Linked DNA regions of Homo sapiens. The protein of the gene in region 1 binds, or shares a complex with, the protein of each later gene. Each region holds a gene or a part of one and is shown in the gene's direction. Other genes may lie near its edges.

The links. Proteins that work in one complex are often made in the same cells at the same time.
Region 2: MED24 (region 1) and CCNC share a complex: the UniProt entries of both Homo sapiens proteins name them as parts of the mediator complex.
Region 3: MED24 (region 1) and MED13 share a complex: the UniProt entries of both Homo sapiens proteins name them as parts of the mediator complex.

The regions. Positions count from the first base shown.
Region 1 is NC_000017.11:40,022,875-40,030,790, reverse strand, and holds part of MED24 (mediator of RNA polymerase II transcription subunit 24), read left to right. Parts: intron 1-931; coding exon 932-1,043; intron 1,044-1,822; coding exon 1,823-1,965; intron 1,966-2,844; coding exon 2,845-2,882; intron 2,883-3,145; exon of another isoform or gene 3,146-3,249; intron 3,250-3,325; coding exon 3,326-3,408; intron 3,409-3,756; coding exon 3,757-3,935; intron 3,936-4,044; coding exon 4,045-4,144; intron 4,145-4,381; exon of another isoform or gene 4,382-4,459; coding exon 4,460-4,635; intron 4,636-7,395; coding exon 7,396-7,660; intron 7,661-7,916. UniProt on the Homo sapiens protein: Component of the Mediator complex, a coactivator involved in the regulated transcription of nearly all RNA polymerase II-dependent genes.
Region 2 is NC_000006.12:99,565,661-99,573,265, reverse strand, and holds the start of CCNC (cyclin-C), read left to right. Parts: upstream 1-4,605; 5' UTR 4,606-4,738; coding exon 4,739-4,770; exon of another isoform or gene 4,771-5,700; intron 5,701-6,227; exon of another isoform or gene 6,228-6,348; coding exon of another isoform or gene 6,349-6,368; intron 6,369-7,605. UniProt on the Homo sapiens protein: Component of the Mediator complex, a coactivator involved in regulated gene transcription of nearly all RNA polymerase II-dependent genes.
Region 3 is NC_000017.11:62,062,279-62,069,825, reverse strand, and holds the start of MED13 (mediator of RNA polymerase II transcription subunit 13), read left to right. Parts: upstream 1-4,547; 5' UTR 4,548-4,620; coding exon 4,621-4,686; intron 4,687-6,524; coding exon 6,525-6,759; intron 6,760-7,547. UniProt on the Homo sapiens protein: Component of the Mediator complex, a coactivator involved in the regulated transcription of nearly all RNA polymerase II-dependent genes.

The DNA.
Region 1 (7,916 bases):
GCTACTCTGGAGGCTGAGGCACGAGAATTGCTTGAACCCAGGAGGCGGAGATTGTGGTGAGGCGAAATCATGCCACTGCACCCCAGCCTGGGCGATAGAGTGAGACCTTGTCTCAAAAAAAAAATAAATAAATAAATAAAAATCCTGAATCTTCCTTTAATCTTAAATGTGCTTTCAGAGCATTTAAGACTAATGATAGGCCGGCTGCGGTGGCTCACACCTGTAATCCCAGCATTTGGGAGGCCAAGGCGGGTGGATCACGAGGTCAGGAGTTTGAGACCAGCCTGGCCAACGTGGTGAAACCCCATCTCTACTAAAAATACAAAAATTAATCAGGCGCGATGGTATGCACCTGTAATTCCAGCTACTCAGGAGGCTGAGGCAGGAGAATCACTTGAACCCGGAAAGCAGAGGTTGTACTGAGCTGAGATCGCGCCACTGCATTCCAGCCTGGGTGACAGAGCGAGACTCTGTCTCAAAAAAAAAAAAGACTAATGATAAATTGCCAGGTGTGCTGGCTCACCTGTAATCCCAGGACTTTGGGAAGCCAAGGTGGGTGGATCACCTGAGGTCAGGAGTTTGAGACCAGTAGAACATGGTGAAACCCCGTCTCTACTAAAAATACAAAAAAGTAGCCAGGCGTGGTGGTGAGCGCCCAGCTACTCTGGAGGCAGAGGCTGCAGTGAGCCGAGATCGTGCCACTGTACTCCAGCCTGGGCAACAGAGTGAGACCTGTCTCAAAAAAAAAGACTAATGCTAAATCAGTGATTGCAACATTGACTATGCTTCCATAAACTTCACCCCAACCTCGGAGGTTCTTACATGCTTCCCACCTCCTCTGCGCATTTCCTTCCGGGCTTGAACGAGGGAACGTGTCAAGAATTTCTCTTCATTCCTCTTCCCTTCCTTGGCCAACTGGTGATGTCCACAGCAAAGCGGACCGAGAGCACGCACCCCAGCAGAAATCGGGAGAGAATGCCAACATCCAGCCCAACATCCAGCTGATCCTCCGGGCGGAGCCCACTGTCACAAACATCCTCAAGGTGAGTGTGCCCTTCCCTGGCCACCACAGTCTTCTCTTTCTTCTTTCCAGTGCTCCATCTGCTTGCAGATAAATAAACAGAGGCCACAGACCTCTGTCTCCTTTAGCTTTTATACATAGTTGCTTTGGAGGTAGTGAAAGGGGAGGCAAGGGCAGCTACCACTGAATGCTAACCCGTGGGAGCTTCATTTGTACACCAGGCACTGCAGTAGGCGCTTTCACTTAGGCCATCTCACATGGAAACAACAGAGACGTGGGTGCGGTGGCTCACGCCTGTAATCCCAGCATTTTGGGAGGCTGAGGTGGGAAGATCCCTTGAGGTCAGGAGTTTGAGACCAGCTTGGCCAGCGTGGTGAAACCCAGTCTCTACTAAAAACACAAAATTCACTGGGTGTGGTGGTGCATGCCTGTAATCCCAGTTACTTGGGAGGCTGAGGCAGGAGAATCGCTGAACCCTGGGGGGCAGAGGTTGCAGTGAGCCAAGATCGCACCACTGCACTCCAGCCTCAGCGATAGAGCGAGACTCTGTCTAAAAAAGGAAAGGACAGAGAAGATCCTAGCCGTGACCTTGCCCACTCCAACCTTACCACCTGCATGCCAGTGTAGATGAGAGGGATGGATCGGAGAGCAGGGGTGGGTTTTAGGAATGATTTTCCAGATTGAAGTCAGAAAGATGTAGATTACATTCCAGGTTGTGAAGAGAGAAAATGTGGCTAGGCTGTATCTTGGGTGGGGGGTCTTCAGTGTTCTTCAGGACTTGATTTCCTGTCCTGTCCCCAGACGATGGATGCAGACCACTCTAAGTCACCGGAGGGACTGCTGGGAGTCCTGGGCCACATGCTGTCCGGGAAGAGTCTGGACTTGCTGCTGGCTGCCGCCGCCGCCACTGGAAAGCTGAAATCCTTCGCCCGGAAATTCATCAAGTGAGGAAGGCCAAGCCCCTGACCCCAGGGCGTGCAGGGAGGCTGCGCGTTGGGAGGAGGTAGCAGGGTAGGAGTCAGGTGCCTGGGTCTGGGTCTCATCCAGAGACCCACGGGCCTAGGCAGAGCATCCTGGCTGGAGATCTTGGAGGAAGGGCCTGTTCTCACGACCTAAGTGTTCCTTTCTCTTCAGCTGAGGATGGAGTGGACATGTTTGGTAAAGAGATGAGGGTAAGGGTTGAGGTGTTGAACATTGGGCATGGAGGAATTCCAAGTATGCCCAGTTATTAATAAGGGGCTCTCAAATTCTGTTGCCTTTTTTGATTGCCCTGGAATTTGACATATATAGAACATGGTTCCATTCAGTGAGCCATTCTCTAGGCCTTGGAAATCTTCTAACAATAAAAATCCTTCTGGCCGGGTGCGGTGGCTCACGCCTGTAATCCTAGCACTTAGGGAGGCCAAGGTGGGCGGATCACCTGAGGTCAGGAGTTCAAGACCGGCCTGGCCAACTTGGTGAAACCCTGTCTCTACTAAAAATACAAAAAATTAGCCGGGTGTGGTGGCGGGCACCTGTAATCCCAGCTACTTGGGAGACTGAGGCAGAAGAATTGCTTGAACAGAGGCGGAGGTTGCAGTGAGCTGAGATTGTGCCACTGCACTCCAGCCTGGGTGACAGAGCGAGACTCTTTCTCAAAAAAAACAAAAAAAAAACAAAAAACAAAAACCACAAAAACCTTTTTTCTATAGCAATGTGTCTCATTTTAAGTTTAACCAGTAACTCAGACTCTAGCTATCGCTCTCTGAACATGTGTAGCCCCAGCGCCCAGCTACTGCTCAGCTCATGCCCTGGTCAATGCAGCCTGTCTCCATTCCTTTCAGTTTGAATGAATTCACAACCTATGGCAGCGAAGAAAGCAGTAAGTCAGCCCTGTGCATCCGCAGGCCCAGTGGGCCCTGAGGAGGGGTGTGGCGGGAGAGTGTGGGAGGGAGGAGGGCTCCCCAGCTCAACAGGGGGAGGCTGTGCTCCCTCCTCAGAGCCATGACCAATGGAAGCTTCCACAGAGCTTGAAAGTGGATAATGCTGGAAAAGGATTCTTCCCAGACCATCCCTGTGTCTCCTTCCCCCCCTCATCCCTTTACGACTTGGTTAGGTATGCCAGGAGAGGGTGCTGGGGGTCTTTGGTCTCAAGGAAGGGATGATGTTCCAGTTGAGACTCAAGAAAAGGATTCTGAGCCTCAGAGCTTTGAAGGAGCCACTTGGTCCCTGACCTTCCTAGAGGCAAATCCCGATCCCTGTCAACCCAGACACGGGCTCCCCCCTGCCCTCGTCTGGGAGCTCAGCCTTCCCGTCCTTCCACAGCCAAACCGGCCTCCGTCCGGGCCCTGCTGTTTGACATCTCCTTCCTCATGCTGTGCCATGTGGCCCAGACCTATGGTTCAGAGGTGAGAGAGGGGAGCGACCGGGACGGGGGCTCAAGGGAAGGAGGTAACCCGGAACTCTCCCCACCTCACTGCCTGCGCCCCCGCAGCCTCTCAGCCAGTTAGTTCTGTGGGCCTCAGAAACCAGGTGCCCACCCGGGCTGGAGTCCGTAGAGGCACCTTCAGCCCTATGTTCACATTGACCACTAGGTGGCAGCATTGCCCCCGTCTGGCTCCCTTAGACCAGTTCGTCCCCAGTCTTTGGGCTGGGCTGGAGCAGCAGCCTGGCGGGAAACAGTGCAGCCCCAGGTCCAGCGCTGGCAGGCGCCGCGCCCTCCCCACTCGGCTGGTGCCCCCCTTCCCCTTTCCCAGGTGATTCTGTCCGAGTCGCGCACAGGAGCTGAGGTGCCCTTCTTCGAGACCTGGATGCAGACCTGCATGCCTGAGGAGGGCAAGATCCTGAACCCTGACCACCCCTGCTTCCGCCCCGACTCCACCAAAGTGGAGTCCCTGGTGGCCCTGCTCAACAACTCCTCGGAGATGAAGCTAGTGTCAGTGGCCCGGGCGCCCACTCCAAGGGTGGCGGTGGGGGCAGGGTCAAGACCCGCTCCCTGAGCCCGTTCCTTGCTCCCCTGTGCTGACTTCTCTGCACACCCGCAGGCAGATGAAGTGGCATGAGGCCTGTCTCAGCATCTCAGCCGCCATCTTGGAAATCCTCAATGCCTGGGAGAATGGGGTCCTGGCCTTCGAGTCCATCCAGGTAGCCCCGCCTTCCCAGCAGCGTTTGCTCCCCTGAGACACAGAGCCAGCCAGTGATGACTTGTTATATTTCGTAAGGGCAAGAAGACCTTTAATCCAGGAGCTCATGTTTTGATATTGATATTTTGTGTAATCGTTGTCTTAGCTACTCCCTCTGGCCCAGGTAGCTCTGGGAAGATCAAACTTGTGGAGAGAGGTGTGGAATGTGGCCCGGGACTCCACCCGCTGCACTTAGCTGCCCGCAGAGGCTGAGAAGGTGATGTTGGCTCAAGAAAGGGAGATAGATGGTAGCCCATCACCTTTCCGTCTCCCCTAGAAAATCACTGATAACATCAAAGGGAAGGTATGCAGTCTGGCGGTGTGTGCTGTGGCTTGGCTTGTGGCCCACGTCCGGATGCTGGGGCTGGATGAGCGTGAGAAGTCGCTGCAGATGATCCGCCAGCTGGCAGGGCCACTGTTTAGTGAGAACACCCTGCAGTTCTACAATGAGAGGTCGGTAACCTGCCTTCCCTTCTCAGACCCTTCAAGTGTGTTGTGAGAAGTCAGCACATCCAATAACAAGCACCCCTCTCTTTTCTGACCTTCGCAAACACGCTACTTGATCACTCACTCACTTTCCTATTCATGCATTCACTCATCTGACTCAGCAAACATGTACTGTGTCTCTGTGGCAGAAGCGTTTATATGCCAGCACCTGCTGTGTTGTCAGAAATGCAGACCCTAAACAGGGTCTGCCCGCAGAGACTCAAGTTCTAGACAACTAGCTCCCAAAAGAACAAAGCTGTGTGACTGTCTAGGAGCTAGGAACCTGTCTGTAGATTTTACAGGCCATGCCCCACCCTCAGTTACCTCTTAGGACAGTTTCCTGCCCTGGCTCTTCAGGGGCTTGGAGGACTTCCCTGGTGACCAGTTACGTTGAGTTCATTCACCCAACCAATAAGTTGTTTGCTTTTTTTAATTGTAAAAAACACATAAGATTTGCCATCTTAGCCATGTTTAAGTGTACTGTTCAGTAGTGTTAAGTATATTCACACTGTTGTGTAACAGGTCTCCAGAACTTTCTTGCATCTCTGAAACTCCATACCCACTGAACAACAGCTTCCTATTTTCCCCTCCCTCCAGCTCCTGGTAACTACCATTTTACTTTGTGTGTCTAGGAATTTGACTACTTTATACTTTTTGTTGTTGTTGTTGTTGAGACAAGGTCTTACCCTTGCCCAGATCAGAGTGAGTCTCACTGCAACCTCAAATTCCTGGGCTCAAGTGATCCTCTCGCCTCAGCCTCCCGAGTAGCTGGGACTGCAGGCCCACAGCCGGCTAATTTTTCTAGTCTTTGTAGAGACAGGGTCTCACTATATTGCCAGGTCTTGAACTCCTGGCCTTGAGTGATCCTCTCACCGTGGTCTCCCAAAGTGCTGGGATTACAGGCGTGACCCACCGTGCCCTGCTGAATTTGACTACTTTTTAGATGCCTCATTTAACTGGAATCATACAGTCCTTGCCTTTTCGTGACTCACTGACTTCACTCAGCATGGTGTCCTCAAAGCTCATCCATGTAGTAGCACGTGACAGGAATTCCTTCCTTTTTAAGGCTGAATAATACTCTGTTGTGGGCCGGGCGTGGTGGCTCACGCCTGCAATCCTAGCACTTTGGGAGGCTGAGGTGAGTGGCTCACTTGAGGTCAGGAGTTTAAGGCCAGCCTGACCAACATGGTGAAACCTTGGCCTTACTAAAAATATAAAAATGAGCAGGGAGTGGTGGCAGGCGCCTGCAATCCCAGCTACTTGGGAGGCTGAGACAGGAGAATTGCTTGAACCCAGGAAGCGGAGGTTGCAGTGAGCCGAGATCACGCCACTGCACTCCAGCCTGGGTGAAAGAGTGAGACTCTGTCTCAAAAAACAAAACAAAAACAAAAGAAACCTCTATTGTGTGGCTATACCACATCTTGATCCCTCCTCTGTCAGTGGACACTTCAGTTGCTTCCACCTTTGGGCTATAGTGAATAGTGCTGCTGTGAACATGGGTGTTTACCAGCTAATACGTTTTGGGTGTTGCCATGTCTTTATGGCAACGTTGAGGATGTCTTTATTTATTTATTTATGTACTTATTTTTGAGACGGCGTTTCGCTCTGTCACCCAGGCTGGAGTGCTGTGGCACTATCTAGGCTCACTGCAATCTCCGCCTCCTGGGTTCAAGAGATTCTCCTGCCTCAGCCTCCCGAGTAGCCGGGATTACAGGCATGTGCCACCACACCCGGCTAATTTTTGTATTTTTGGTAGAGATGGGGTTTCACCATGTTGGCCAGGCTGGTCTCGAACTCCTGATTTCAGGTGATCTTCCCGCCTCAGCCTCCTGAAGTGCTGGGATTATAGGCATGAGCCACCGCACCGGGCCTGAGGATGTCTTAATAGGGAGAAGGGGAAGCATTGAGCTGAATGAGGTTTGGACGGTCTGGAAAAGCACATCTCGTTTTCCCCTTGCCTCCTCCTTTTTTCCTTTCTTCTCTCATTTCTCCACCACCTTCCCCCCCGCCCTACCAAGTAGGGAGCTTTTGCTCTGGTGTAACCCATTCTAAGCACCCTAAATCCTATCTGGGTAAGGGGTAGTGAGAAGTCTGTGGCTCCATTGTGCAGGTGGGAAAAGTGGCTCTAAAGGTCATAGCAACTTTCCCAGAGCCACCCTGCATTCCAGGAACAGTCAGCACTCGGCCCGGGTCTGTATTCACTTCCGAAGCCTCTTTCCATGAGAAAATTCCTGGATATACACTTCTATCTGCCCAGCTACCAGGGGCCGGGAAGAGTCCTGTGGGGCAGCCCTTGGGCCTCTCCTGGAAGGAACAGTTTACTTTGGGAGGAGGCCAGGGCTGGGCGGGGACCCCCAAGCACTCAGCCTAGGGGGAAGTGATTGTGTTTATTTATGTGGCAGGTTGGCAGGGCCCAGGCCTGGGGGATGGGGGAAGTTGGAGAATAAAAGAAAATGTGAATATCTGGCTGGAATGGCCAGGGGGAGGAAAGTCCCTCCCCAGTCCCTATTTATAGGCTTTGTGTCCTGCAGGTGAGAGACCTGCCAGGAGCAGAGCAGGGGCCAGGTCACCCCGGGGTATACCGTCCCCCAGCGCAAAACTGGGTTAATGCCTCAGGGAGATTTCCGTAACCTAAGTCCAAGGGAAAGTCTGGCATGGGTGTTCCCTCCTCTCCCTCCCCACCCTACAGTGGCACCTGAGCCTCAGGTTCTCTCGGCCCTCCCCCAGGGTGGTGATCATGAACTCGATCCTGGAGCGCATGTGTGCCGACGTGCTGCAGCAGACAGCCACGCAGATCAAGTTTCCCTCCACCGGGGTGGACACAATGCCCTACTGGAACCTGCTGCCCCCCAAGCGGCCCATCAAAGAGGTGCTGACGGACATTTTTGCCAAGGTGCTGGAGAAGGGCTGGGTGGACAGCCGCTCCATCCACATCTTTGACACCCTGCTGCACATGGGCGGCGTCTACTGGTTCTGCAACAACCTGATTAAGGTACTTGGGCTGGAGTGGCTGTGGGCCGACATGGGTCCTGTCCCCTGGCTCCCCACACCTGGCCTGGTCTGCCAGGCTTCCCTGAGAGGCTGCCGTGAGCCAGGTGGCCTCCCCGGAATGCCTCGCCTCAGAGTTGCCTCCTTGGGGAGCTCTGGCCAGAGACTGGGATTCAGCCTGAGGGGCGGAGCAACATCTGGGGCCCCCTCTGCGGGCCTTACTGGACAGCCATGCTGGGGTGGCAGGGTGTAGGAGCCCC
Region 2 (7,605 bases), on another chromosome or scaffold:
CAAAAATGAAAAATAAAAAATTTTTTAAAAAGAATTTATTGAACTCATCCCATTTGAAAAGCACAAGGTAAGTTGAAAATTGGAAGGGACAACATTAATTTATTTCATCAAGTTTAAATTAGTGGGTAGTGAGGTCTGAAAAACAATACTCCTAAAATTATAAAGAAAAGTTTAAAAAATCATCAGCGAAAAAAGGCAAATCTGCTAGATAGCTCATGATCTTTTTGCATCCAGGTAAGCTGGGATATCTATGTATTTTAACAGCTTTTGTAAATTTATCTATTCCACTAGAGATATCCTTAAATGAAGTTAGCTTTTGGTTCAAGTCAATTTAATTCAACCTACATTTATAGAATGACCTCAAAAGCAATTTACTCTGAAACTAAGGAAGCCTAAGCTCCAGGCCTGTCACTTGCACAGCCCCCATGAGCACTGGGAGCTGCTGGGCATTTGGTGGAAGCAGAAACCAGGTCACAAACAGGAAGAGGTTCTATGTAGCACTTGTGGTAAATTGCCTAAAAGAGTTCACAGAAGGAAAGGACCTGAATTTCCACAGCTCTAGTAAGTTGTTGTGGCTCTTTTTGCATTCTAAATGTAGTACTCACTTTTCAACATAATTTTGTATCCGTAATGTTATATCAAAGCACATCCCCCAAATTCTATAAGAGATTTATACAAAGATGAAGGATCTCACTGTTTTGTAGGAAGAAGAGTGCAGAATTAGGTATAAAACAAAATTGCGGGGCACGGTGGCTCATGCCTATAATCCCAGCACTTTGGGAGGCTGAGGTGGGTGGATTAACTGAGGTCAGGAGTTTGTGACCAGCCTGACCAACATGGTGAAACCCCATCTCTACTAAAAATCCAAAAAAAAAAAAAAAAAAAAAAAATTATCTGGGCATGGTGGCAGGCACCTGTAATCCCAGCTACTTGGGAGGCTAAGGCAGGAGAATCGCCTGAAGCCATTGCACTCCAACCTGGGTGACAGAGCAAGACTCTGCCTCAAAAAAAAAAAAAAAAAAAAAAAGTGCTAGTCCAGTAATAGCAACAAAGTATAATAGGATCGCTTAGAATAAAACATTAGTAATACTAATTCGTTGCAGTATCCTTATCTTCTGGATGATGCCAGTTTCACAAAAACAAAACAAACCCTGAGAGAGTTGAAGAAATCCTGAATCTGTGAACTAGCCCATGGCCTGGAGTTTCTTAAGGTAGTGCCTTTTAAATATAAATATAAAGATAAATATATATATATTTTTATTTATTTTTTTTTTTTTTGAGATGGAGTCTCACTCTGTCGCCCAGGCTGGAGTGCAGTGGCTCGATCTCAGCTCACTGCAAGCTCCGCCTCCTGGGTTCATGCCATTCTCCTGCCTCAGCCTCCCGAGTAGCTGGGACTACAGGCGCCTGCCACCACGCCCGGCTAATTTTTTGTGTTTTTAGTGGAGACGGGGTTTCACCGTGTTAGCCAGGATGGTCTCGAGCTCTTGACCTCGTGATCCGCCCACCTCAGCCTCCCAAAGTGCTGGGATTACAGGCCTGAGCCACCGCGCCCTGCCAATATTTTCTATTGTGATCTGTAGTGTAACAGACAGTAGTGTTCATGAAGTATACTACACACTCGTTTACATTTCTCAGCTTTCTTTCTTTTTTTTTTTTTTTTGAGACAGAGTCTCACTCCGACACCCAGGCTGGAGTGCAGTGGCGCGATCTTGGCTCACTGCAACCTCCGCCTCCCAGGTTCAAGCGATTCTCCTGCCTGAGCCTCCCAAGTAGCTAGGATCACACGCATGCGCCACCATGCCCGGCTAATTTTTGTATTTTAGTGGAGACGGGGTTTCACCATGCTGGCCATGATGGTCTGATCTCCTGACCTCGTGATCTGCCTGTCTTGGCCTCCCAAAGTGCTGGGAGTACAGGCGTGAGCCACCGTGCCTGGCCTCAGCTTTCTTCACAGTTAAAAATTGGAGGCATGTGTCTATTCTGGTCAATGGCCCATGAGAGAAAGTGATTGGGTTGTTTCTGTTTCAAGGCTCTTAACCCTGGGTAAGAGTTAGTATGAGTCCTCTGTGCTCTCTCTAGAAAGATTTTAAACCTAGAAGTAAAGACCATCAAGATGGAGTAATTGAAGGATATATAAATATTACATTCTTGAAAATCTGGAAGACAACCACCAAGGAGAGCAAGCCGACTTTATGGGACTTTATGGGAGTGACGTATGACATGTAAAATACTTTGATGTTAAGCTATGCTGATTAGGGGTGGGGGTGGGGAGGTGTTACCACAATTTCACCTAGTGTAGCTTATCCAGACTAATTCATTCTTTTTTCTTTTTCTTTTTGGATTTGGAGTCTCACTCTGTTGTCCAGGCTGGAGTGCAGTGGCACAATCTCTGCCCACCGCAACCTCTGCCTCCTGGGTTCAAGCGATTCTTGTGCTGCAGCCTCCCGAGTAGCTGGGACTACGGGTGCACGCCACCACACTCCGCTAATTTTTGTATTTTTAGTAGAGACAGGGTTTCACCATGTTGGCTAGGCTGGTCTCAAACTCCTGACCTCAAGTGATCCGCCCATTTCGGCATCCCAAAGTGCTGGGATTACAGGCGTGAGCCACCACACCTGATGCAGACTAATTCTCACATACAAACAAATGCATTTCACATCTTGACTGTGTGTGTATATGTGTGTTTGTGTATGTATATACACACATATATAACTGAACCAAATTTAAATATAATATCCTTGCTATTTCTGATTTACCTAGTATTTTCTGTTCTATTTAGGAAAATGATTATACTTAATTTTACCACACCCTAATTGGTCTCCACCTACAATGTGAAAAATACTGTCTTAAGTTGCCTCAGATGCTGACTGTCTATAAACAAGTTTCTGGAGTGTCCAATTATTTAGAAAAATAATTATAAGTTTTACAATAAATGCATTGCTACAATGAAAATGAAATGGAAAATACAAAATATTTCGTCTTGTAAAATTAAATTATGGCTTTTTTTGCAGTATGTTTCTATTAGGTGCATACATGTACATACATGTGCATACATATATGCATGAATATTTTTAGATGTTCTGCAAAACTGTTGATTCCGCTGCTCTGTAAGTTTGCACTTTATCACTCCAAAATAACTCCATTAAGATCGCGGCCGAGATCTCGCCACTGCACTCCAGCCTGGGCGACAGAGCGAGACTCCGTCTCAAAAAAAAAAAAAAAAAAGATCGCGGCCGGGCGCGGTTGCTCACGCCTGTAATCCCAGCACTTTGGGAGGCCGAGGTGGGCGGATCACGAGGTCAGGAAATGGAGACCATCCTGGCCAACATGGTGAAACCCTGTCTCTACTAAAAATACAAAAATTAGCTGGGCGTGGTGGTGTGAGCCTGTAGTCCCAGCTACTTGGGAGGCTGAGGCAGGAGAATCGCTTGAACCTGGGAGGCAGAGGTTGCAATGAGCCTAGATAGCGCCACTGCACTCCAACCTGGGCGACAGAGCAAGACTCCGTCTCAAAAAAAAAAAAAAAAAAAAACCGCCTGATCCAGGCCGGGCCTGGTAGCCCACGCCTGTTAATCCCAGCATTTTGGGAGGCTGAGGCTGACGGATCACCTGAGGTTAGGAGTTCCAGACCAGCCTAGCGAAATCCCCTCTCCACTAAAAATACAAAGATTAGATGGACGTGGTGGCACGCGCCTGTAATCCCTGTAATCCCAGCTACCTGGGAGGCTGAGGCAGCAGAATCATTTGAACTGGAAAGGCAGAGGTTGCTGTGAGCCGAGATTGTGCCACTGCATTCCATCCTGGGTGACAGACCCAGACTCCGTCTCAAAAGTAAAAAACAGGCAGGGTGCGGTGGCTTACGCCTGTAATCCCAGCACTTTGGGAGGTTGAGGAGGGCGGATCACGAGGTCAGGAGTTTGAGACTATCCTGGCCAACATGGTGAAACCCTATCTCTACTAAAAATACAAAAATTAGCTGGGCATGGTGGTGCGCGCCTGCAGTCCCAGCTACTCGGGAGGCTGAGGCAGGAGAATCGCTTGAACTCCTGGAGGCGGAGCTTGCAGTGAGCCGGGATCGTGCCACTGCACTCCAGCCTGGAGACAGAGCAAGACTCCGTCTCAAAATAAATAAATAAATAAAGTAAAAAAAAAAAAGGAACACTTGATCCCTGAGAACAAAGTCATCTTCATTTATTTCTCTTTCCAATCACAGGAAAAATAAGTCACAAAACCTTGTACTTTATTACAATGCCACATTGTTCTGTTTTTGAAGTCCTGGAAGAGGTAATAACAGAACCCCGTATCTGAGCCACTTCGCCTAGGTTAGACCCACTCAGCAACTCCCGTGCTGAAGACAGGAGACCGAGCGGCTTGGGCCCCCGGCCAGAATTCTCAAGACGCTCTCGCGAGAGCCTTCCAACCGCCGCGAGCTCTCGTGAACACTAGTTCTCTTCAATCTCAGCACCTCCAAGGGTCAGCACCTCCCCTCCGGCTCCCTCCGCTACCGCGGGCCGGAACTTTTGTCGATAGGAACGGGTTTGCACAGTTGAGTGTTGTCGGCCGGCGTGAAGGAGACTAGGGGGCCATCCTCTTCCTTTCGCCGTCGCCGCCGCGGAGCGGAGTCGAGCCGAGCTGATTTGATCGAGGAGCGCGGTTACCGGACGGGCTGGGTCTATGGTCGCTCCGCGGGCCGCTCCGCCGGCTGGTGCTTTTTTATCAGGGCAAGCTGTGTTCCATGGCAGGGAACTTTTGGCAGAGCTCCCACTAGTAAGCGATCTTCCGTCTTCTCACCTGGGGCCGGTTTTTGGGGGAGCTGTGAGGACGGGGCCTGTGACTCCCCTGGGCCTGGATCCCAGCTCAGTTCCGAGTGCCGGGGTCCTCACGGGAGACCGCAGCGGTCAGAATCAAGATGCGCTTTTCTGAGGCGACTCCCCTCCCCGCCCCCAGCCCCAGTTTCGGGGAGGGAAGGATCTGTGAGGGGGAGGGGTGGGAGAGAGTTTCGTCTCCCGGGAAGGAACGTTTCGGAGTTTAATTTCGGATTCTTGGTTTAGCTAGGCCGCGGGGGGTCGGATAGAGTGGGCACAGGTACGGGAAGTGTGACTCAGCTCAAGACTGTGAGGCTACCTGTTCAGGACAGTTGTGGCGTGCTTTTACCTGGGGTTTCTTCGGGTGATCGGCGTCGTGGTCTTTTGTCATTCACTGTATATCTTGAGTGGATTTAATATTATGAGGAGAGGAGAGAGTCTGGCTTGTTTCTGCCTACTAACCGCTTCTTGCGCGTACTTTATGTCTAGATGGAGTTTTATATTGATAAGGTATAGGGCAGGTGCCCTCTAAATTTATCCATTTCATTAGCCTGTGCTTTATATTTTGTTTTAAAGGCCTATTTTTCCAGTGACTTTGTTTACCTGTTTCTTTAACCTTTTTCATGAATAAGTTCTTGTTTCTGTCAGTGACCATGTGAGAGCTAGAATAATATTAAAAACATTTATCCCTAAATACATTTGTTTAAGCAGGCAGGAAGGTGCGTTATGGGGTAAATTGAACATTTGAGTAGGCTTTCCACTGTATAGTTGAAAGATGAACAGAATTTGACAAGGTATCTTGGTATAATTTTTTATGCTAAGAAAGCATTAGTAAGTAATTTAAATTTCGATTCTGTGAATAGGATCTGTTCCTGATGTTCATTTTTTAGCCCTTTGCAAAGAGAAAAAAAGAAACAATGAACTCAGTAACCTATTTAAGGAAAAGCAGGTTTTCCTCTTGCTATAAAGTGATTCTGTGGAGATGACATGTTAAAGAAGCTTTACCACTGATCATATGTGTGTGTGTGTATATATATGTGTGTGTGTGTATGTATATATATATGTGTGTGTATATATGTTGCATTGTTTTCACACACTGAAATATTGCTTGGGCAAAATTAAAGTATCGAAAGTTTAGGTATTGGAGTTAGAGCTCCTGAAAAAAAAAGTTTAGGTAGTGGAGAAGAGATATTCTGATAAACTCTGAAAGAAGCTGAGAGAATTGACAAGTAGCTGACTGTTGATTTTTCAGTTTTTCAACTTAAAAAAAAAAGATCCTGCCTTATTTTCAATAGTGTTCTCATTATGCTTTCATTTATTCATAGCATTCTAAAAATATGTTTTCACTTTTCAAATATAAAATTATTATAAAGTTAAGTGTACTTCTTTGAAACTATTCTTTTCTCCCAATTCAAATAGTCCTAAAAGAAGGGACCACTTTGCCTTGCTCAAATCCCTTGAGCAGTCATGGAGTTTCTTATCTGGAAAAGGTAACGAGTGTGGAAGACAAGACAATTCTGGAAAAACAAACGAAAAGATTATGAAAGGCCATTGTCTTAGGTGAATTTGGTGAAAGAGGGCAATTGATATTAAATATGCTATATTTCATGCTTCTAAGATGCACGTTTTCACACTTTAACATCTTTGAAATCAGCATGGCAGTTGCTTTCATAGCATATGAAATAATGATGAATCCTAGATGTAATCTTAAATTTGATGAAATGCAGTATTTATAAAGTTTTTTAGTTTATTCTCCATACAGAGTTCTGTGAGGAAAACTCATAAAATGTTTGTGAAATTTATCTTTTTAAAAACATAAAATGACTCTGTGGGGATGAAATTAATTAGCAAACCACAGTGTAGTTGAGGTAGAACAAAACACAGTCTGTGACCAAAATGAACTAGAAGGGCACTAAGTATTTGCTGGTTAATTGAATGCATTAATGAACAAGTAACAAAAATAAAAACTACAAAACTAACTGTGGATACTTTATTGGTATCCACAGGAAACTGAAAATACAGTTACTTACTATCTAGAAAATAACATCATAATAGTACCATATATGGAATGTAACCAAAGCTTGAATGTATTAGAAAATCAATATCCTGAATAATTGAGAGATAATAGAAATATTCTATTTAATAATATTAAGAAGGAAACATGAAATAAACCTAAAGAAACAGAAAGACTTAAAATAGATAACGATGCTAATATATTAAAAGGAAAAAAATTATAAAAGCTAATTCTTAGAGTAAATAAAAACAGTAGACCAAACTACTGCTAGTTAAATCAGGGGAAAAAGGAATGATACAAAAATACAAAATTAGGAATGAGAAAAGTAAACCCAGGGGTACTTTTGGGTTATCTCCAGGGTTTTAAATTTGAAAGCCAAAGCAAGTTAAGAGTATTACCCAAGAGCTATGTGTTATTTCATGGGTAAATACTTTCCATCTTTCAAGAGAATCTCCTTTTGAAATTGTTCCATTTCATACAGAAAGAAGAAAAGCTTTCTAATTCTCTTTATGAAGCCATGATAACACAGAAAAATCTAGCAAAGGGAACACTAAAAACAGTCTCACTTTTGAATATTAATGCAAACATTGTAAATGAATTATTACCAAATGCAGTCTAACATTACATTGAAAGTATAAAACATGACATTGGATTTTATTATAGAAATATAGTCAATATTAAGAAATCAAGCAGTAAAGGTATTAAAAAACTAATACAATTCAACATTTATCCTTGACTAAAGCTCTTACTAAAACAGAAATAGGATGCTTCCTTAACATGAAA
Region 3 (7,547 bases), about 22 Mb from region 1:
TGATTGGCTCCTATTTTACTTGGATTATCTCTTTTAATCATTGCAACAACTCTGACATTTAGGTGCTATTATTACATACACATTCAACAAAGGGGTAAATTGAAGTTAGGGAGCTAGCAAGCATGGAGTTCTGCTTGTTTGCTTGCTTTTTGAGACAGGGTCTCACTCTGTCACCCAGGCTGGAGTGCAGTGGTGCAATCTTAACTTCCCAGGCTTAATCAACCTCCCCACCTCTACCTCCCAAGTAGCTAGGACTACAGGCACGTGTCACCACGCCCGGCTAATTTTTTTATTTTTTTTGCAGCGGGGGGTTTCGTCATGCTGCCCAGGTTGGTCTCAAACTCCTGGGTTCAAGCAATCTGCCCACCTCAGCCTCCCAAAGTGCTGGGATTACAGGCATGAGCCACCGTGCTGGGCCAAGTATGGAGTTTTGACCCCAGTTGGTCTAACTGTTCAAGTGCCATTATAAGCAAGATTATGAGCTGCTTGTATATGCTGTATTTTGTCAATACATGACCTGACACATACTAGATGGTTAATACATGTGGGTAGTTAAGTGGTCATATAGTATGATCTCAACCATGTAGGAAAAAGATACATAGGGAAAAGTCAATACATCAAAATGTTAAAAAGTGATTAATTATGAATGGTAATGATACGGACTTTTTTGGGTAATGTACATTTAAAATTTTCATCTTTACGCTTTTATGTATCTGCCAAACTTTTGACAATGTGTGTGTAATGTTTTTATTTATTTATTTTGAGATAGAGTCTCACCCTGTCACCCAGGCTGGAGTGCAGTGGCGTGATCTTGGCTCACTGCAACCTCTGCCTCCCGGGTTCAAGCAATTCTCCTGTCTCAGCCTCCCAAGTAGCTGGGACTATAGGCATGTGCCACCACGCCTGGCTAATTTTTGTATTTTTAGTAGAGATGGGGTTTCACCATGTTGGCCAGGCTGGTTTTGAACTCCTGACCTCAGGTGATCCACCTGCCTCGGCTTCCCAAAGTGCTGGGATTACAAGCGTGACACAGCACACCTGGCCGACAATATGTGTGTAATGTTTTTAGTTATTTCCATTACTTTTTAAAAATCCCATATAACTCCTGCCCCCACACATACACAGCCTCCCTCATTATCAACATCCCCCACCAGGATGGTATACCCAAAGTCCGTATTTCCATTACTCTCTTTTTCTTTTTTTTGAGAACGGAGTCTCACTCTGTCGCCCAGGCTGGTGTGCAGTGGCGCGATCTCAGCTCACTGCAAGCTCCGCCTCCCGGGTTCACGCCATTCTCCTGCCTCAGCCTCCCGAGTAGCTGAGACTACAGGCGCCCGCCTTTTTGTGTTTTTAGTAGAGACAGGGTTTCACCGTGTTAGCCAGGATGGTCTTGATCTCCTGGCCTCATGATCTGCCCGCCTCGGCCTCCCAAAGTGCTGGGATTACAGGCGTGAGCCACTGCACCCGGCCTCCATTACTCTTTAAATCACACAAAATGTCATTTTTACCGAATGTAAGTGGTTACTGATACGTTCTTTGTGGGCTGAAAATATTTATTTCTTCTCTTTCCCTTCTCCCAATGATTCCATTCCCCTCACAACTGGGATCCCCCCCATTCTAATCTGCTTCTCCATTCTCTCAGTCCTGTCTTTCTCTCTCTCTCCTGCTCCCTTCTGCGATCCTCCATCAGACTTTTTCTTCTGGGTCTTCCTCCCTTCTTCGCTTCTGTCTCCTTGTCTCCCTCTTCTTTTTGAAAAGATTGACATTCAAACAGAAAGGTCAATCAAATGTTACCTCCTACTGGTAGGTTTCAGGTATATTCTACCTGCCATTGGAATCCTGAGGATGGTGCTCAAGTCAGGGGGTGGGGGCAATGGGAGGGCAAGACTTCTAAGGAGAATGGAGACCCCTTTAGATGTGAGGAGGGCATTTCAGCCTGAGGAAAGCAGCGGAACAAAGATCTGAGGAGTTTTTCAGGGAACGGGAAATGGGCAGAGGAGCGCTTACCTCATTGGATCTGGGGATTGCTGTCTCCTGGTGCTGGCACTCGGTTATAAAGGATGCCAACCTTAGTTGATTTGAGCTCCTGGATTGAATTAGTCCTGGTTGCATAATTGACTTTGATATGTGGACTTTGGGTTCGAATTAGGTTTAATAAGATTTAACTGCTTCAAAGGGCTTTATAAGAATTCATTTTATCCTTCAAATCTGATTTCAAATGCTACCTACTTTATGACAACTTCTCTAAGTTTGATGCTCTTCTTCTAGTGCACTTACTATGCCATAGTAGGTACATACTTTATTCAAGCAATTACCCCCATTGTATTTTACCTTATTCTGTAGGAAATGTTTCCTTTAGTGCCTCTCTTCAGGAATCTTGAGGGACAGGCAGGTATCTTATTCCTATTTGTATCCTAGGCCTAGCACAGAGCAGGAACACACTCAATTGAGCCAGCAGGTTCTCAATGATTTTTAAAATTACATTAATAATTAACATTAAGTAAGCACTGTGGCAAGCACTGTATCTACATTGTTTCATTCACCAGTCATTTTAGAAGAAAAGTACTTTTATTACCCCCATTTTACAATAACCGAGAGAAAGCAAAATTAATTTGATCTAAGGTCAAATATGATCTAAGACTAACTAGTGAGGGGCAGAACTTTTTCTCCAGGCTTTGGGCTTCAGATCTGGGCTCTTCACCACCACAGATGAACAAGTGGATAAATGAGGACTTCTTTTCATTCCGTGGCTGAAGAAGTGACATGGAAGAGTCTACCATTCATTTTACAGATACAATTATGTATCTGTAATACATAATACATAATTATGTATCTGTAATACATAAAATTACAGTAAGTCCTAACTCACTGATGTTTCTAACTTCTGAATCATCTTTTTCTTCTTCTTTCTTTCTTGCAATCCTAAAACCGTCAGAGAAACTGTTTTGAACTCATATTGAAGTGTAACCCATCCAAGCACTGGGTGTTTTATGGGAAAGAGAATAAACCTTTTGTTTGGTTCTTACTTCTTACCACCCATTCATTTGTAACTATACAAATATCAAGCACCTACTGTGTGCTAGGAACCTTTTTTTAGGCACTAGAGAGACAGAAGTAAACAACAAAAAAATAGTGAGACCTTTACATACACTAGTTCTCCTGCTCGTCACAATAACTATATGAGGTAATGATGACAACAATAATAGTTAACTCTTAACAGTGCTTATCTGTGCGGGGCACTGGGCTACCTGCTTAATTTGTATTAACTCATTACAATAAGCTTGTGGGGTAAGGGATATGTTTTCCCCATTTTACAGATGAGTAAAGACACAGAGCAGGAAGTGATTTGCTCAAGCTTGGAACCCAGGCAGTGTGGCTCTAATTCCCAGTCTATTAACTACAGGGCAATATTTTGTTTCTTAAATTTATATCTTCATATCACAACTTTTAGGTTGAGGAGTCTTATCCCCATCCAGATCATCTGACTCCCAAATCCAGAGGTTTGCACCTGCACCCCAGCGGCCTCGCGAAATAAATGAGAATGTCTTGGAATTTTTGCCAATACTTTCTCTTCCAAAGAACTCAAACTGATTTCCACGTAATTCTCACTGATTTGTGAAATGAACCTTCCTGGACTGTAAATTTCCCCGCAAAGAGAGGGCCAGGGCCCCGGGTCGTTTTATACTGGCCGGGGCACCCAGCAGATGGCGCTATGTTAGTGGCCACCAGCTGGCTGCCCCGTCCCCCGAGCTCACCGCCTCCGCCGAAAGCTTCCCGGCCCTCCCTCGCTCACTTCTCTCTCCCCCTCCCAACCGAGCCCGGGCCCACGTGACCTCAAGGCGGCCAATGGGTGAGCAGAGAGGGCGAGCTGGTCCCTGTGGCCGCCATTAAAGCGAAGGGAAAACCCGTGAATTCGGATTAAAGGGGGAAAAACACCGCCCGCTGGGCCCACAAAATGGGGGAGACTACGGCGTCCAGCCGGTGAGGCCACAGGAGGGCAAACTTTAGGCCGGCTTGGCCCAGGAACGACACGAAGACAGAGCCAGAGAATGGTCTGAGCCCGCAGACGCCGCCACCACCTCCGCCGCTGAGGAGACTCTGGGCTTAAGGACATCGCCGCTGCCGCGCCGGGGGCCTGGGCTTCTCTCCCGGTTCTCGCCCTTCCCGCTCCTGTGCGGGCGCCTCTCCGCCCGGGAGAACCGTCCTGGGCTTGGGCTCTGCCGTCTCGGACTTGATTTTGATTATTTATTGTGTAATTTATTATTTTTCTTGTGGTAGGGGCACACATCCCCTCCGTCCCCCAGAGAGGGACGAGCGTCTGCGGGATCCGCAGTCCGGCCCGCCAGGCGAGCGCGGCGCGGCCCTCCCGCCTCCGGCCCTCGGCCCCGGGCGGCTGGGTGCCGGCCGGGCGGCGGGGGCTGCTCGCGGCGGCGGCGGCGGCGGCGGCGGCGGGGGGGTGGGTGGGGAGGGCGGGCGCCCGGCGGCCTCCTCTTCCACCGCCCCCCCAACCACTACCCCCCCCCCGGCCCTCCCCGGTGTCTGTGTTTCTCTCTCTGGTCGGAGGCGGCGGTAATGGCGGATGGTGGGTTGTGGCGCCGGCGGCGGCTGCTGTGAGGGACGATGAGTGCCTCCTTCGTGCCGAACGGGGCCAGCCTGGAAGATTGTCACTGTAACCTCTTCTGCCTGGTGAGTGCCGGGGCCGGCGGGCGCCGAGGGAGGGGGGCCGCGAGGTGCGCCCTTGGGCCGTGGGGGAGGGGGCCGGGTCTGGTCCAGATGCCCGAGTTCCCGGGCGAGGCCCAGCCGGAGCCGGCGCCCTGCGAAGCTCCGCGGCCAGCCCCGGGAGGCGGCGTTCGCTCTCCTACGGTCCCGGGCTCTGTTTAGGGGAGTGTTGGCATTTTTTCTCGTCTTGTTTCGGACTCTCCTTCTCACCGTAGTCTCGTCCTCAACTTGAGCTCCTTATCTGGCAGGACAGTAACCTTTCCCTCTTGTCTTGCTTAACTGTTGCTTTTCTCCTTATTGGCCCTGTATCCCTGCTTCACACTTTACATTATTGCCCCTGCTCCCCACCGCCTTTATGTCTTACCCTTTTAATTTGGTTTCCCCATGTAAACAGGACCCCAGAACTTAAGCCCTAGAAACCTGTCTTGGTTTTACATTTTTTTTGTATGAGTCAAACTAACGCCAGGTTAGTTTCTTTCTTGGGTGACTTAAGATCTCTCTGTAAAAGCCAGTAGGTGCCATTTCATATGTTTTCTTTTTAAACTTTGAAAACAGTTTGCCATTTTTGACAATTTCTAGCCATCTTGCTTTTATTAGAACATGATGTTTTTGTGAGAGTGAAGGGGGCTAGTGGACGAGGTGCTGTGGTTTTGCACTGTTTCTATATTTATTGTGTTTTGGTTGCTTTTTCAGAATGTTTTGAGCAGGCTGCTCCCTTGTTTGATTGAAATGGAAAGTCGAGAGAAGCGGGATGTAGGGATGATCATTGTGTAGGTTAGCCCAGGTCTGGTAACATCCAACAGTTAAGGCTTTCAGAAGTACCAACTGTTGCAAATAACTTGTCCTGTATGGGACAGTAGCTGAGCTTCATCAATGACTTTAAGTTTGGGTGACTTTACTTTTTCATTTTCTCCTTTGTGCTATGAGAAATATTAAGAGTATATGATAGGTAAGTGAGTTAAGTGGGAGGAGCACAACTAGTTGGCAAGTGTAAACTGCCAGTCATGTATCAGCAGTTTCATTTTTGGCACCTTATGCTTTGCTCCTTTAAGTTAGATTAAATTACTGAATTCCTCTTGTCGAATTTCTTAACGCCCATGCTAAATTGAGATCTTTAATACTCTATCCTCGTCTACAGTATGTTTTTCTTTTCAATGTCCATTAATCAGCATCTCTTCACATGTAATAAGACATACACCAGGTTTTATATTTCTATCTTATCCAACTCAGTCTATTTTTGGTACTTTTAGGATCAGTTCTTTGAAGATAGACTAGCACAAATCTGACAGTTCTTTGTGAGTAGCTATTTGACTTTTCCGACAGGGGTGTGTGTGAAGAATTAACATAGATTTTTTCAGAACTTGTTCAGATGTCTTTTCATTAGAGACGTTACTTCTGTAAATGTGGAATAAAAACCCATGATAGGGTCTTTAATAATTGATTTTCAGTTAAAAGTTTGACACCAGTGAACAAATGTGACCAGTTAGGACAGAGAAAAATGTACTCTGTTTGCATATTGAAGTGTGTGTCTATATTTAACATCATTCAGTTTCTTCTGTTTCTACTTGGAGTACATATTTGCTTGCTATTCAGTGACATGGTGGTGGTAATTTTTAACTGTATTCTTCTCCCTAAAATTCTTGGTTGTTGAATTATAAAGTCTTTTTTTGTTCTAATTTGCAGTCAATATCTCAAGCATACATTGAAAAATTGTAATGTCTTAATGAAATAAGAGACATCATATTGAGTACTTTTGACTTTGAGTGAATATGCAGTAATAAAACTTAATGCTTTCTTTCCTTCAGGCTGACTTGACAGGAATTAAGTGGAAAAAATATGTATGGCAAGGCCCAACTTCTGCCCCTATTCTGTTTCCTGTGACAGAAGAAGACCCCATTTTGAGCAGTTTTAGTCGCTGCCTTAAGGCAGATGTACTTGGTGTTTGGCGGCGAGATCAAAGACCTGGAAGAAGAGAATTGTGGATATTTTGGTGGGGTGAAGACCCCAGTTTTGCTGACCTTATTCACCATGACTTATCAGGTGAAAGAAACTTTCCATTTCTAACTAATGATATAGCAACATTGTATACTTCTCCCAGAATGTCATATGTATTACAAATTAAGTTTGTTTTTGTGGGAGACTTAGGAGGCCAGATAAAAATTCAGCTTCATTGTTTTATTTCACCATGATTATTTTATTTTACTTAAATTATCCATGTTGTTATAGCTGGGTTTTTAAGGCGTGAATGACTTTCTCCTTCCACCACCTCTCTTCTTAATTTCTCACAGGTAGTTAGGGCCCGAAGAAGGCATGTTACATTAATCTAAAAAAATGGAATCAGGAAACAGAGTTCCTAACAAAGTCGTGTAATAGTTTAGAAGCCAGATGTAACTTTTGAGTCACTTCAGCCACTGCTGAAGTTGAGTCTTTTGCATTGAATAGGCAGATGATTCTAAAAGTACTGGAAATGTAACTATCCGTGTGTGTGTGTGTGTGTGTGTGTGTGGTGTGTGTGTGTGTGTGTGTGTTTTAAGGCATGTATTTTGTTATTGTCATTTGTGCTATTTGATTAACTTATGAAGGCATATGTTAATTTAGTTATTTTTGGAAAGTGACTCATATACTGTTCTGTCAAACATAATAAGAGAAAAGTGCCAACTTGTTTAGCTTTTATGGGACATGGGATCATAATCTAAAAGGTTACACAAACAATTTTATTGTGAGCAAATCAATGTGATTACTTCCTTATTTTCTTGACTTTTAGGACCAAATGCTACTTTAGAAAGAGAAACTATAGCTTTTCATATAATTACTGAAGCTTTAAATTG